3 separate regions of the Homo sapiens genome follow, and all the other regions are linked to region 1. The links come from fine-mapping of genetic effects on gene expression. A gene starts in region 1. Each other region holds a variant in brackets. All regions are shown on one strand. Distances are from middle to middle.

The links. PIP is the estimated chance that this variant, and not a neighbour inherited with it, causes the effect.
Region 2: its variant is fine-mapped to the expression of PBX1 in whole blood (INTERVAL, PIP above 0.99).
Region 3: its variant is fine-mapped to the expression of PBX1 in lung (TOPMed, PIP above 0.99).

The regions. Positions count from the first base shown.
Region 1 is chr1:164,556,109-164,561,397 of GRCh38, forward strand. It overlaps PBX1 (PBX homeobox 1), which reads left to right and starts at 3,076. Exons shown (of 9, transcript NM_002585.4): 1 at 3,076-3,905. The coding sequence starts at 3,715. RefSeq lists an enhancer at 2,658-3,157.
Region 2 is chr1:164,758,715-164,764,003 of GRCh38, forward strand. The region is part of intron 2 of PBX1 (PBX homeobox 1); the gene reads left to right. Among named protein-coding and RNA genes, the nearest start is that of PBX1-AS1, 13 kb to the right of the region's middle. RefSeq lists enhancers at 574-1,075, 1,076-1,575. The variant G/A (reference allele first, on the strand shown) is at 2,972.
Region 3 is chr1:164,587,193-164,592,481 of GRCh38, forward strand. All of the region lies in intron 2 of PBX1 (PBX homeobox 1), which reads left to right. Among named protein-coding and RNA genes, the nearest start is that of PBX1, 31 kb to the left of the region's middle. RefSeq lists an enhancer at 3,441-4,408. The variant A/T (reference allele first, on the strand shown) is at 2,083.

The sequences.
Region 1 (5,289 bases):
TACTGCTGCTTTCCTAATTTCATCTTTCCTTGCCAAATGATTTGGGTAAACAGCTAATTGTTGCCCAAAGTGTTGAGTAACCAGATAATTCTTCCCGAAACATGCTCTTCTGTTCCTATCTGTGAAAGAAAGAAACAACTTACCTCAGTGTATCCCTAATGTCCATCAAATAAAACACAAATGTTTCTGTTAAAAGTCTTTCCAGTTGGGCGCGGTGGCTCACTCCTTTAATCCCAGCACTTTGGGAGGCCAAGGCAGGTGGATCACGAGGTCAGGAGTTTGAGACCAGTCTGGCCAATACAGTGAAACCCCACCTCTACTAAAAAAAAAAAAAAAAAAAAAAAAAAAATTGCCAGGCCTGGTGGCGGGTGCCTGTAGTCCCAGCTACTTGGGAGGCTGAGGCAGGAGAATCACTTGAACCCAGAGGGTGGAGGTTGCAGTGAGCTGAGATCGCTCGACTGCACTCCAGCCTGAGTCACAGAGTGAGACTCTGTTTCAAAAAAAAAAGTCTTCCCAATCACACCTAATAACATTTCCATTGTGCCTGAAGAGATAGCCTGTACTTCCGTCAAGTTCATTAACCTAGCCCTCCAGATCCAGTTCATCCTTTAGATCCACCGCGAAGCCTTCTATTCACTCGAACTGGTTACTCCCTTCTCTCATCTCTTATAGGATGTCTAAGGGCTTGTTATCACTTCTATAGCATTTATTATGTATTGAAATATATCTGGGCAACACTCTAGAGTAATGGTTAAAAGCATAGCTATCGGGGTAAGACAGTTGCAATGATTAAATTAACAAAACACCTTGAATATAATACTTAATTATAGTATGGAGTCAATAAATATTACCTATTTTTAGTATCATTGTGTATACACATCTTATTTCCCTACTAAAATGTTCCTAGATGACAATGATCTTCTGGAATTGATGGTACCTTTTCCAGTACTTTGCCTAGAAAGATTTTATTAGGTTTGCAATTAGAATTAATTACTCACAAACTGATTTCTTATAGACTCTAGGTTGACTTCTTTTCATGCTTTAAAATGTGGTAACTTCGTCTCTGTAAGGGATATGCTAACTCTCAATCACTGTGATTGATATGTGATTTGAGTATATAGTTTTGTGCTCAACTTTTGATTAGTGTTAATTTTTAAAAAAACAGTTTAAAAATCAGGATATGTATGTGAATAAAACAATTGTTATTAAGTAATATAACATCATAATTACAATTAATACTCTGTATTGCATGCCCTCATACCAATAAGTGCCAAGTAGCTTGCTAAAAACTGCTTTGAAATGCTTGCATCAGTGCTCCTTATCTTGCCAAACTTGTTTTGCGTAATGATTGGTGAGAAGAATAACATTTTATTTGAGGATCTCGAAGCACCTGGCAAGGCTGCTTTCCATTTTGCAGATTGGTTACACTGCGCTTGCAGATTGGTTACACTGCGCTTTGCATTTCCTTTGCTATACTGCCATCCAGGAAGAGGGCTGGCTACACAATAGAATATTTTATATTACAAAATATTCTGGACATTTCCTAAGTAATTGGCCTGCTATTTTATCTTATATTCATTGTGACTGTGTACACAGTCAGATTTTTCCCTCTCACTTTGCCCAATGAAAAGATTGGAAGCAAATTTGTGTCTGTCTGGAGCTATGATACTGGACCTTAGTTATGACTTTTGTTGGCTTTTTTCTTGATCCCATTGTATTTATTTTTTATTTTTTCCTACCCATTTTCAATTGGAGTTGTCTTGTTGGAATATGTACCCTTTTAAGCACCTCAAGTTTCCTTTCAAACTGGACAGGCAATAGACACATAACTAATTTTTAACACTATTCACACATTTCTGTTAGACTGAAGCAGATTGTGCAGTGGAAATACTAGGCCTTTGGAGGGAGTCACACTTGGGTTTAAATTCCAGCTTTGACACTTAATAACTGTGGACCTTGGACAAATTATTTAACCTTTCTGAGTTCCCTCTCTGTAAAATGGAAATAATAATCCATAACTCACAAAGATGTCTTGGGGATTAAATAAAATAACTCATGCAAATTACTTGGTGCATAGTAGGCATTCAATAAATGTCAGTTCACTTCTCTTCCCAGTTAATAATGCTTATTAGACTATATTAAAAACTAGAACTAGACTGTGATAATGCATTTCTTTATTAGGTATTTAAGCCAAATAACTAATTTCCCCCGGGGGAAGAGAGAGAAATGTTGAATTAGTTTCATTTGGTGAACTTATTTATTAATCTTTCTTTTTCTTGAGCATTTTTCAGTTTCATAGTCCATAATTTAGTTTTCATGCAGCAAAAATGACACAGTTTGGTATTCTTTTCACCTTTACTGTGCTAGAATTGTTTTTTTAAATGTATCTATTATTACATCTGCCACTTATTAGAGATCTTTATTAATTATATTAACAGCTCGATTGTGTTTCATAACTACGTCGTGCTGACAAACTTGTGCTCTCAGCAGTTTCCCTGAGGTCTAAGCATTTAAAAGAATCAAGTTTTAAATGACAATGCCACAGCAAAAGAAAAGCAGGGGTGGGCGGGAAGACGCACACCGTCTGTGTTCTTTCGTGTTAATTTTATATGTTTGCATTTAAGTGGAGCCACATTTTCCTCAAGGACGCAACCTAAGTAAGGCGAGCAGGGAAAGTGGAAACTAAGTGAGCTGGAACTACAGTACCATTGCACCTTTAAGGACTGGAGACTTGCTATTAGCTCGGCCTCCTTCCCGGCCCACCTCTGAACTCTGATTGACAGGGCGCCGGGCGAGGAGGAGCTGAAGGAGGCTGGAGAGGAGGCGCCGTGAGGAAAGTAGGGGAGGAGGGGGCCGGTCCTTTATCTGGTGGCCAATCAGGGAAGCGGGGAGGAGCTCCAGGCGCCCTCCTCCCTCCTCCTCTCCCCAGCCTCCCGGCTTCCCCGCCCCCTCCCCTTCCCTTTGCCCCCTCCCCTCTCCTCCTTCTCGTCCTCCTCCTCCTTCTTCTCCTCCTCCTCCTCCTCCTCTCAGGCTGTGGTTTTTCTGTATATGTTTCTGGAGTCCTGAGCCTGAGCTAAACAAAAGCAGGAGGCTGACGGGGCTGCTGGAGTTTGCAGAGACACGGAGGAGGAGAGAGCCTGTGCTTTGCCTGCCGCCGCGGCTGGGGGAGATCTGGCTTTTGCAACAGCCCACCCCCTTTGAGATCACTCTGGCCCGGAGTGGGGGTGGGGGGCAGCGGGGGGTGGGGGGGGAAAGTTTGCATTGCAATCCCCCTGCCTTCCTCTCCTTTCTCCCGATCAATGCATATTTGCAAAAGGATTAAGCCACAGATTTAAGCGCCGGGAGCCCATTTCTGCCTTGCAAAGGAGACCGGACTGAAAAACCTAAAGCCAGCTCTGATTTCTTTTCGCCAAGTGGGAAGGTGGTTTATTTTTCTTGCTTTTTGGAGTCAACACCCTTCCCCACCAGCCCTTATCCCCACCCTCACCCCGCAACCCCTTCACGCCCCCTCCCCCTCCCCCTCCTCATCCTCCCACCATCCTCTAAAGAGGCAAAGGGATTTTTTTTTTCTTTTGGTCTTCTTTTTTCCCCCTTCCCTGTTTATCCTGAAAAGGATTTGAAGACAAGCTTGAAGGATAAAAAGCCTTGGTGCTTCCCAGGAGCCGAGCCGAGGAGCAGAAGAGGAAGAGCCGGGGGCTGCCGTAGCCTTTGGAGATGGACGAGCAGCCCAGGCTGATGCATTCCCATGCTGGGGTCGGGATGGCCGGACACCCCGGCCTGTCCCAGCACTTGCAGGATGGGGCCGGAGGGACCGAGGGGGAGGGCGGGAGGAAGCAGGACATTGGAGACATTTTACAGCAAATTATGACCATCACAGACCAGAGTTTGGATGAGGCGCAGGCCAGGTGAGATGGAGGCTTTTCTTTTCCTTTCTTGGGGTTTTTTGTTTTTCTTCCTCTTGCAGGGGGAAACAATGGGAACCGAATCACCACAGCGCTTTTTTTGAAAAATGTTATTTCTTTTCTCATTTTGACAAGCAACTACATGGCGGAGGAGTAAAATTTGAAGGAGCGTTGTTATCGAAAGTGTAATCGCCCATGCCGAGATGTGGCTGTGTACATATTTGTGTGTGTGTGTGTGAATATAGGGGTATTCATTTATATCCACACAAACACACAGGCATGCCGAAAATACTGCCAACTGATCCAAAAGCGGCCCTCGGCACTTTTTACTGCTTTAAAAAAGTATCAGAGAAAGCAGAATTGTCAAGTTTTGAACAGCATTCCATGCCTTCTTGTTGAGGGGACTCTGTAACATTACGAAATAAAATGTCCCAAGAACACTTTATTTGCAAATTTAGTTGACTCCTTACCTAATTCAGCGAGTTTGATTTTCTTTCTTGACTCTCCCGTCCAAAATTAATTTTTATCTTTTCTCCTTTCTTCCCCCCCTACCCAAAATACAAAACAACAAAAAAGCAGGGTATTTCTTTGTCAGTACTTGTCAGCTATCCAGAAAATATTTTGCATTCACTTAATTTTGTTTTTTTAAAAAGTTGATGAAAAGGTGATTTTGTTTTTAGGCATATTTGTTAGTTTTAAGAGACTCAGATTTTTAGTTTAACTTTATTGTCTCCTAATTTCAGCCGGTTTACTAACCTTCCGTGACACAGACAGCTATGTAGGGTCCTTTAAAAAGGGGTGGGGGGACAAAAATCAAGCATGCTCTTTTCCCCCATGCTTCTTTCAGGACCACTTAGAAATGAAAGCATTTATGAATTTTATATATTTCAGTACTATAGGACATGAAGGTCTTCATTAAGGAAACATAATAAACTGTGTAGCCTCTCAAGTTAATCCACTGCCAGGTATATGGTTCTCTACTTCAGGATTTTACAGTAAATTCTCTTTTAAAGTAAAACATAGACTAAGTGACAACCCGCTAACAGCTTGCCCAAGGCCGAACTCAAAAGGAAGAATTTTAAAAATCTAATGACCACATATGTCTGTACAATTACCCAGCTTTGTTATATCTCCGAAGTAGCGTTTTTCTCTTTGAAAACCCTGTAAACAAATATACGCAACTCCTATACTTCAGATGACTTGGTTATATGGAGAAGACATCATTATGTGTATTTCTGTCTACGTGAAATAAGAATCTGAGTTGAGAAAATGAGAGGAAGCAGTTAAAAACATAGATGTTATGAATTATACTCAATTTTAGCTGCAAGCACATGCAACATGTAAACTCAAAAGTACTAAGGTTTACGGGTGTTTGAAAACTTGGAAA
Region 2 (5,289 bases), 200 kb after region 1:
CTCATGCTCCTTTCATGCTCCTTCCAGCCAAGAAGCTGGAAACTAAAATCCCTTTTCTTTTCCTCTCAACTTAGTCAATTCCATAGCATGAGCTGAGTGCCTGTTGTGCTCACCTAGCATCGTGTCTGGCACATAGTAGGTACTCACTAAATACTTGCTGAATTACTAAATGCATGGAAGTTCCAGGATCCAGTGGGAGTGATAAAGGTAAGGGAAAATTAAGGCAAGCAAAGGCAGGAAAAACAAATCTCTGCTTAAAGGAATCAAGAGACTGGCTACCCTTGGAGATAGTAACTGTAAAGGGTTTGGCTGGGGCTTCTGTGTGCTGCTCATAATACTCTCTTGATCCCACTTCTGGAGACTGGGCTGCATGCACTATACAAAAATTCACTGTACAGCTGTAATGTATGTATTTCTACTTAATATAGTTTATCCTACTATCTAAAAAAATATGCCTTTAAAGGATAGTGTCGGTTCTCAAGTACCTTAACAATCTTTTTGCAGGTGAGGGTGGAAGGTGGGTGAAGAAACCAATATACAGGCAACGATTAGGATCATTATTTGGCTCAACCCCCATTCCAGTAACATGCTGTGACTGCAGGGGAAAGAATGGCTCATTCCAAGCTCTGCCCTTATGTATGCCATTAACATAGATTCCCAGGGGGTGGGTCACCTTCTGAGTGGAGGCCCCTAAATCTAATGCCCAAGGAAGCCAAGACTCCTTGCACCCCGGGTGACACAGAATCCTGGGTGGCTGGTTCAGGAGCTTCATGTGCTAGCTCCCATTTATGATTTCTTTTTTCTTTTTTTAAAGAAAGAAACATAAGGAAAACATTTGCTTTGACATTGAATCCACCCCTACATGTAACAGTAATTGCAGGGCCTAGAGGGGGAAAGAAAGTATCATTCCAATTTGGGGCCAACCAGCCTTGACAATATTGTGTTAAACCTTCTGAAGTGGTGAAGCCAAGCTGCAGCGAGGCAACCCTGGCACAGGTGGACAATCGGGGACATGGAGAGCTGGAACTGGGAGACACTTCTGGAGTCAGGACACGTAAGGAGTACAAAATTACTCTTTGGGGCACTCTCAGGGAAGACCTGTGCCTCCAGGCCTGGCCCTTGGTTATGGCCTGTGCTCCTGACTCCTTAGGAGGTTTTGGCCATGAGCTAATCAGATGCCCAGTTCACACAGTAAGATATGACTGCTTGACCTCCACATGGAGCCCGACTAGATCCCCCTAAAAACCACAGTTGTAAAGCTCTGTAGAGGTAGTGGCCTCTTCAAAGTCCCCAAGCACGCAGCCACACGTGCTTTCTCCTCCAGTCTCCGTGTGTCTGTAAAAGTTCAAATACTGAGTCAAGTTTATTGTTTCTATCTCGTTTATTTTAAGTATAGTTTTACACTTTATTATGTGCAATGACATCTTAAATGGAGCCTGTCACTCCGTCTTGACTACTGCTCGGGGCTGGAGCCACTTACCATGTCACACATTCAGCAGCCCTGATTAACCGAATCAGAATGAGCAGCTCCATCTCCACCCTCTCCAAAATAGTGCCCCTTATTTATATGAAGCAAAATATGAGAACAACAGGATCCTGTATCTAAAGTGGGAAGGTTTCCAAGTTGAGGAAGTTTGGGATGGCATTTCCCTCCCTTCCTCCCTCCCACCCTTCTTTGCTCCCTCCTTTCCTCCTTCCATCCCTCCTCCCTCCCTCCCTCCCTTCCCTTCCTTCCTCCTTCTCTCCTTCTTTCCCTCCTTCCTTCCTTCGGATTTTTTAAAACATATTTTGTTATATATTCACTCTCTTTAAGAATAACACTTTGTTTGGTTAACTCCTGCCCCCCAAAACAACAACAATAAAAAACAAAACAAAATTTTACAACTTTCTTTTCTTCTTCTCTCGTCTGTGGTTGCAAGTCAGTTTTTGTAGCCCTGTCATTATGTGAGGTGGCCTAGAGTAATTTGAATATTTCATTCTCCCGGCTGCTAATGCAGCATGCGTTACAGATGGTACTTGCTTCATCCTTCTGGACCTGGTTCAATTATAAATGAAAGTAGGGAGCTGAGATTTGTCTTTTTGTCTCTGCTTAGTTGGAATAACACAATAAAGCTTGATGGGTAAGAATTTCTCAAACTGCCTCTTTTTCACCTCGGACATTTCCCAATTAGATTGCTCCTTAGAGTACTTGGTTTGCACTCACGTTTGGAGCCAAATGTATAATCATTGTTGTTATTTTTGGATACTTTCTTTCCTCTCACTTGGAATAAGGCTGTATTCTAAAAGTATAAGCAACCTCTGTCTGCCTGCCCCCACCCATCTTTTTCTTTTTGGTGTCTATTTCTCATCAATTCTTAGCAGTGACTGCATGATTTATTCAAGAATCTTGAGTAAAACCACTTCCCTCCTCCATACCCTTAAAAGTACTGTCCCCTCACATCACACTACTTAGGGACACATTGGTGGTCAGGGAAAAGGATTTTTCCTCACAGTAAGATGTGTCTGCTCAGCTCACTAAATCAATATATAAAAATAGAACACACATGTAGAGCAAATTATGCAAATTTATGAGTATAATCTTACATGCACATATTTATTAGACACTAGTAGTATTTTAAATGTGTTTGTGTGGAGGAGGGTGTGTGTACACACATGCCAAAAGGCTTTGGGTTTGGTATGTTTTTGGACATTCTAAAAAATAAACATTAAACATCGTCTTTCATTGGGACATTATTCTTTTTTTTTTTTGAGACGGAGTTTCGCTCTGTCGCCCAGGCTGGAGTGCAGTGGCGCGATCTCGACTCACTGCAAGCTCCGCCTCCCAGGTTCACGCCATTCTCCTGCCTCAGCCTCCCGTGTAGCTGGGACTACAGGTGCGCGCCACCATGCCCGGCTAATTTTTGTATTTTTAGTAGAGACGGGGTTTCACCGTGTTAGCCAGGATGGTCTCGATCTCCTGACCTCATGATCC[G/A]CCCGTCTCGGCCTCCCAAAGTGCTGGGATTACAGGCGTGAGCCACCGCGCCCGGCCCATTGGGACATTATTCTTATGGTCATTTTAGCAAATTGTAAAGCTTGCTATTTAGTTCAGGCTATACCTTTATTTGGATCAGTGTGAGGGATTTTTTTCCTTCAACCTCAAATTTATGATCACTAAGTGTTGGGCAAATACAGTACTATAGATACTCTTAGAAGGGTGACTAATTCAAATATCTACCAGTAATGTCAAAGAAGGGGGGATGAACCAACTATATTCTCTAAGATTAATTGATATTGTATTAGATTACATGGGCGCTCCAAGAAGATCAATATATATATTTTTTAATTTCACTTTGTTCCTCACGTACTGTTGGAAACCAGCTTTGCAGTGTGACACCTGTGGGCTCAACATTGTTTCACCCTTATTTTGATGACCTGCCCTTGTAAAGTTAAATAGAATATAAATTGATAGTATCTCCTAGCCTCCCATGGTTCTATAAGTTTAAGTCATTAAGATGAAGAATAAAGTGTCCTACAGAGAAATTGCCAGCTTAAAAGACAAAGTGTTGGAATGTTACAGTAAGAGCTCTGATGCCCTAGGTCAATACAGGTTGGCAGAAGCAGCATAGTTTAGGGAACTCTGTTCTTTTCCGATGCAATTTGCAACAGTCCTCAGCCCAGCATCTCACTTGTTTTTCCTACTATGTTAAATGTGATCCTACCTACCCTTAGAGATAACAGTGAAAATTAACCTAAAACATAGAGCCAAGTCTTTCAGCAATTTGACATACTTTAAAAAATATAAAGTGTGCTTCATTTTCATATCAGCTTATGATAACCCACCTTCTGGAACCAACCTGGTAATTAGTTATCTGGGTCTGCAGTGTGCAGTAGGTCCATTCCTCCATGTGTCTCTGTCTATCTTGATTTCTGGCTCAGCTTCTGATATCTAAATGATATTCGTTGAGCAATTTGGAACCTAAATGGAGTTAGAAATGCTATTATTCCATATTTTTCAAGTAGTTAAAAGAACATCTTTGTAGCAAATTTTCTAGGAACACAACAATTAGAAATGTTTAATAACCTGTGGTCACTTTCTTACAATTAATTATCTTGAACTCATTTTCTGCTAATATCAAATCTTGCCAGAATAATGAAATTGGAGTTCTTATTTTCAGCTAGTTTTCATTTGTCAATCATTGACCTACTTTTCTTTGGAAATTTGTAATAAACTGAAAAATAATAGCAGCTGTACTAATATTGGTATAATAATTTCCAGTGTACCAAGTACTTTTCATGTATATTATCTCGATTTTGATATCATGATAATTCTAAAGGGATAGCTTTTATTTTTCTTAGTTTACAAATGTGAAAACAAACCCAGAGAGGTTAAACAGTCAAAATCACAATTCAAGTCCAATGTGAATGTATTAGGATTAGGTTCAAATGTGAGTAGCTGAAACCACATCCACCCCCTTTCAAAACATAGGAAGTAAGATATAAGCAGTTCAGGGCTGGCAGAGTGGCTCCATAGACCACAAAAAACTTAGGCTCCTTCCTGAGTTTTCACTCAGTCTTCCCTAAAAGGTGATCCTGTGTCATCCTCGTGATCTAAGTTGACTGCTAGAGCTCCAGCCATTCCATCTGCATTCCAGGCATCAGAATGGAGGAAGGGGCAGAGAATAACTGTAGACTTATTCCTTTTAAAAAAGACTTTCTAGCATAATACTTGTACTACCACTTGTATCCCATCAGTTAGGACTTAGTATTACGACTACATTTAGTTACAAGGGAGTCTTGGACATGTAGCTGGGTAAAAATGTTCCAGCTCTTAGAAACGGGGCAAGTTTCTGAAATGTCACTGCACTTGGGTTTAGCTACAGCCTACAGATTTTCCCTAACCAAGAAAGATAGACCGAGGAGTCATTTTAATTGTCTAGATCTGATTTGGAACATAGGTGTCATGTTATACTAGAGAATCTGGCTGAGGGCAAAGGCAAATCTTGATCGTATTAATAAATGTTTGCTGTATTGGGTGTAATTGTACACATTTGCAGCAAGGCACATCCAAAGAGGAGGTGATGTACTTCCCAAGCAACAGCAACACTGAAAAGGGACTGACTCCAATCATGCCATGGTGAGCAATCTGTGGAGACAAGAGTGACCACAAACTCTGAAATAAATTCATAAAGATTAATCTGTGTGCTCCAGGCTACTAAATTCACATTCCCCCTTGGTGTTACTTCCTACTTAAACTTTAATAGAATGGTTTATAGGATTGTGGAGATTTATAGGATCAATTCCTTGGTTATT
Region 3 (5,289 bases), 31 kb after region 1:
TTATGTAGATGTGTTCCTAAAAAGTGTATGGGTGTGATTTTGGTAATCCTTATCCTAAACTTAAGTCCATTCCTTAGTTTCATGGAAGCAATGTATATGACAGAAGGAACACCAGAGGGGAGTGTTGTGGAGAGTGTTGTGGTGACTTGGTAAGTTGCTTACACATTGGGGGTCTTGGCTGTCTCATCTCTAAGTGAAGGGGTTAGATATGAATGATTAATAAGATCCCTTTCAGGTCTATGCTTCTAGCACTCCCTTTTGTCGGGTGAGGAGCCCTTTTTGTATTGTGTATACTCACCCAGCACTTTATCTGCCTCTTTGTTGTTAGCTGATGATCTTTGTGTGTCTGATTTTTTTTTTTAAGAGTAAGGATGTCATGCACTCTTATTCAAAGTGTAGAGTTTATTCTCCCATTCATAGGAATGCAAAATGAGAAGTTTTAAATACACGGATTCACTTCCTAACCCAGTTTCTCAGAAGATTAATGAATAGTCATCCTGTTGACCCATCTGCTTCTCTTCTTCACATCGTTTTGTGCGGATGAGGCACACACAGACACAGAGTTCTCACTTGCAGCAGTCCGGCACATACAGCCTCACACGCGCCACACCAGGGGGTGTCCCCAGGAGAGGTAGAACAGGTGCCAGATGTTGCAGCAGTACACTCCTCCCTGATCCTCCTTCTCATCCCCCACCCCTTTTCTGAATCTCCTGCACAGTCACTGAAGTCCCATTTTTATATGCAAGAAGAGAAGAGAAAGAGCCCTAGGATGCAAGGATGCCTTGTCACCTCTCATCTTCTGTGCTGGGATAGACACCTGATCTTTTTGGAAGTGAAATCCAGAGTCTGGGGCAAAGACCAAAGGACAGAGGCCAAACCAAAAGTGACTGCATGGTTGCATGCGGGCCCCAAATGATTGAATGAAGCAAGGATACCCATCGCAGGGAGCTGAAAAACCTCACATCCAGATGCGGTCAGAGAGGTTCACAGAATGAAAGGCAGTCTGATGAGTGAGTGAGATACACCCGCCTGTAGAGCACAATAGAAAAATCAATAGTAAGGGGAGGTGAAAGAGTTTCAGCTGGGTTTTATTGAGCACAAAGAAGACAAACTGGCTTTTGCTGTGACTTCAACTGTATGTTAATAGTGCTTTTTAAAAACTACAGTACAGGATTTGGGGAAAAAAAATCACACGGTAAAAGTTGCCAGCCAGTATATGTAAGTGCACACACACACAGAGATGAGGAAAAAGAGAAAAGAGAAATACACTCCGGACTAAGCTTTTTTTTTTTTTTTTTTTTTTTTTTTAGTTTCGAAGCATATGGTGAAGTGTGCTATAATTTTATATGCATATATATTCTTTATTCTGGACTTCCAGAAAGCAATGAGTTTCATCTGTTTTTTTCCCCACCTCTGGTTCCTTCTTCCTTTCCCTTGCTCTCTACAAGTCTGCTGTGGCTTTATTAGGAATTCCCTTTGGTTTAGGGGGAAAAAAAATAAGAGGGAGAGAGAGAGAGGCTGGAGGGGGAAGAAACAAAACTAGCTCTTGGCTGGCCGCCCACAGCATGGGCCCAACAGCCTTGTTTGAGCGCGTTGCCCCGGCCTTCTGTTTTCTTAAGCTCAGCCCCCTTTATCCCTCCGCCCCCACCATGCCCTCCTTTTCCTAACTGGGCTGAGGGAGGCTGTTTCTACCCTCCTAACCCTCTTTTTTCCTTTCTGTTGTTTAAAGAGAATCTTTCTCTCTTTTTTGAGGCTCCAGCGGCGAGAACAGCAGCGGATTTCTCCTTGCCGGCCTCTCCCCTCCTCCCCAGCCCCCTCCCCGATGAAGGGTTCATCCAAAGTTCGAATCCAGACTCTGAACAAAGTGGCGCAGACCTTTTCCTGACTCCTCACCCTTTGTCCTCATCACTCAGTGACAGACAGGAATCAAATGCTGAGGACCCAGGCGGGAGAGGGGCAGTGGGGGAGGGAGGGGAGAGGAGAAAAGTTCCCATTAACTCGCCGGGCCCTTAACAACCACTGGAAGGAGGAGGGGGGCGCGGCTGAGAAAGGATTTTTGTTTAAGTTTCTGCAGGCACACAC[A/T]CAGCATTCCCAAGTTGTTTGCAGATGGTTTCATCTGGTTTCTGTTTGAGGGGAAGAGAGTATGGGATGATCAGTAAGGAGAGGGGGCGGGGAGAGGGAAGAGTCTTCTCTTGACCAGAAAATGATACCTGTGGTGTCTTTTCCTGAAACTGAAAACATTAAAGCGTTCTGATCCCAGAGAAAACAAATTCTCTGGGATATAAGGGTTCACCTTTTGGAGGTGGATTACACTTTTCAGGACACCAGAGAACCATAGAGCAAATTACTTCTTCCAGAGTGCTAAATGATCCCCTGGTGCCCTGGAAAGAGACCGTTTACCTCCAAAAGGTGAGTTGTTTATTGCCAGAGAGTAGAATATTGGCTGTAATGCCTGCTCATCCATCCTTCTCCATCCCTGCGAGGTATTTAGGGTGGAGGAGATATTATCCACCTGTCACCATGGGGAAGGAGACTGACAAATACTTTTCTGATTCCTGTTCCTAAGATTGAATTGCTGGGGAGGAAGGTGAAGTGACTTTTCCAAGGTCTTATAGTGATCCAGTGATTGAAGTTGAATTAGATTTCTGTTCCTGTTGTGGTGCTCTTGTTTGTCAGAGAAAAATAAATATCTTAATGCTCACACGGAGCCTCCCGTAAAAAGGCTGATAAGAAAGGCCAGGTGCGGTGGCTCATGTCTTTCATCCCAACATTTTGGGAGGCTGAGGTGAGACATGGCTTGAGCCTAGGATTTCAAGACCAGCCTGGGCAACATAGTGAGATCCTGTTTCTACAAATAGTAATAATAATAAGACATCCAGGTGTGGTGGCACATGCCTCTAGTCCCAGCTACTCGGGAGGCTGAGGTGGGAAGATTGCTGAGCCTGGGAGGTCAAGGCTGCAGTGAGCCGTGATCGTGCTGCTGTGCTCCAGCCTGGGCAACAGAGCGAGACCCTGTGTTGAAAAAAAAAAAAGCTGGGGGTCAGGGAGCAGATAGAAGAAATACCTTGGCCAGCGCAACTGGAAAGGGAGGAGCCAAAAGGGGAACACTTTCTTGATTGTCCCAGCCTCATTAGGAGCTACCACAGGGCTCTCCTGCATGCTCCTTGTTTTCTTTGTGCTCTGGACTTGCTCACTTGCACTGCTTGCTTCTTCCCAATCGCCGCCGCCCCCCTGTGCTTCAGGTAAACAAGCTGCTCTGTGGGAAGTGAATAATGGGGCCTAAACTGACGAGGAGGAAGTTAAGTTGAGAGGTGCCGTTTTTGGTGAGCCTTAATGAGGAGGACAACAGTGTGAAATCTTACTTGGCATTGTGACCAGGAGATCTATTGCCTTTTCCTCCCCTAAATCTTCAGAATCATAGTGGACTATATATGACTCCCAAAAGTGTATGCTTTTACCTAGCCCTTGGAAGCTTGGATGGTTAGAGCAATTGGGAGTTTAGTCTGTTGGGGTAAACAGGGCATTGATCTAAGGATTTGTTAAACTGTAAACCAAATAAAGAGCAAAGTCTGCTCTACAGGGATGTTGAAGATTCAGGATATTAAAAAAAAAATCTCTGACTGCATGATTACCCTTCCAGACATTTATTGAGGTTTTTGTTTGTTTGTTTGAGACAAGATCTTACTCTGTCACCCAGGCTGGAGGGCAGTGGTGCGATCTCGGCTCACTGCAACCTCCGCTTCCTGGGCTCAAGTGATTCTCCTTCTTCAGCCTCGTGAGTAGCTGGGACTACAGGCGTGTGCCACCACACTTGGCTAATTTTTTTTTTTTTTTTTTTGAGATGGAGTCTTGCTCTGTTGCCAGGCTGGAGTGCAGTGACATGATCTTGGCTCACTGCATCCTCTGCCTCCCAGGTTCAAGCGATTCTCCTGCCTCAGCCTCCCAAGTAGCTGGGACTACAGGCATGTGTCACCATGCCCAGCTAATTTTTGTATTTTTCGTAGAGACGGGGTTTCACCATGTTGGCCAGGATGGTCTGGAACTCCTGGCCTCAAGTGATCTGCCTGCCTCAGCTTCCCAAAGTGCTGGGATTACAGGCGTCAGCCACCGCTCCTGGCCCCCAGTTAAATATTTCTGGAAAAGAGTTCTGTTCACAAAAAATTTTGGAATCAAGGGAAAACCTTATTAATTAAGATCTTTGATAATGTGGATTCTAAATAATTTCGGGCTAAGTTGAATGAAAACTTACCTTTTCACCCATGAAAAAAGGAGCTCTGTAACTATATTAGTAGCACAAACGGGTTCATGTGAATGTTTACCCTGCTTAAGAGAGTAAACTTTTCAGAGTTAGCAGCAGCATTTGCATACAATAAATGTTCTAATTACTAATGATCCTTGCCAATTAATTAAAAGTATGTCTGTCATGGCGCTGCTTTCTTGGCAGTGCTTTTATTGATGATGAGCTTGTGTGCATATTAAATAATACAGTGACATTTCTTTTTAATGTTTCCTAACCCAGGCTTTGTATGGCAGAACATTCTGTTAGCAGACTTGTGCAGGTTTTCCTATCCTACAAGTAGAGAAATGGAGAGATCCATGCCCTACCCTGAGCCTGAGAGTAACTTGGTGATAGTGTCTGCATTCTAACCCAGTGCTCCTGTATTTCCTTGGATTCTTGTTTCTTGTGAGCCTGTAAAGGCATTTGCAAAGTTGGGGCCTTCTGTGAACAGGGGTGCTGTGGCACTGCAGTTCATTGCAGTCTAGACTTTCCACCTCCCCTGTGGCACTTTTGGCAAGTTGACAGGTATAATTGATGAGTTATTCTAAGAATGTGATTCCTGAGTAACTCTAGAGTGGAGTGACTGTGTTTCTGAGTAGTTAATGTGGCTGGGGGGAAAGGCAGATGAAGGGGATGGGGGTTGGGAAGCTGGAGGGAGGTGGGGAGGAGGGCCTTTGTTCAAATCAAGTTGTGTTCAAGTCTGTGGTTTTAAGAGAGAGCAACAGCGATTCTTTCCTAGCATATGAAATCTTCACAGGGCTCATAGTTTGAGTGTGAGAGTCTGGATGAGGTTCATCCCAGTATATGTCCTAGGAAAGGAAATAGAAACACTTAGCTTTGACGTGTAAACCTCCATGCCAACCATTTTGGTTGAGTTTAAGGGAAATCACAAAGCAGCTTCTATTGCTGCAAATTTGCCTAGTAGCCCAACTTTCCAAAGTTAAGATCATCCCTGGCAGGCCTTTAATTCTCAAGGGTCTGCAAAGTTGATGGTCTGTTGAGAAAGGAAA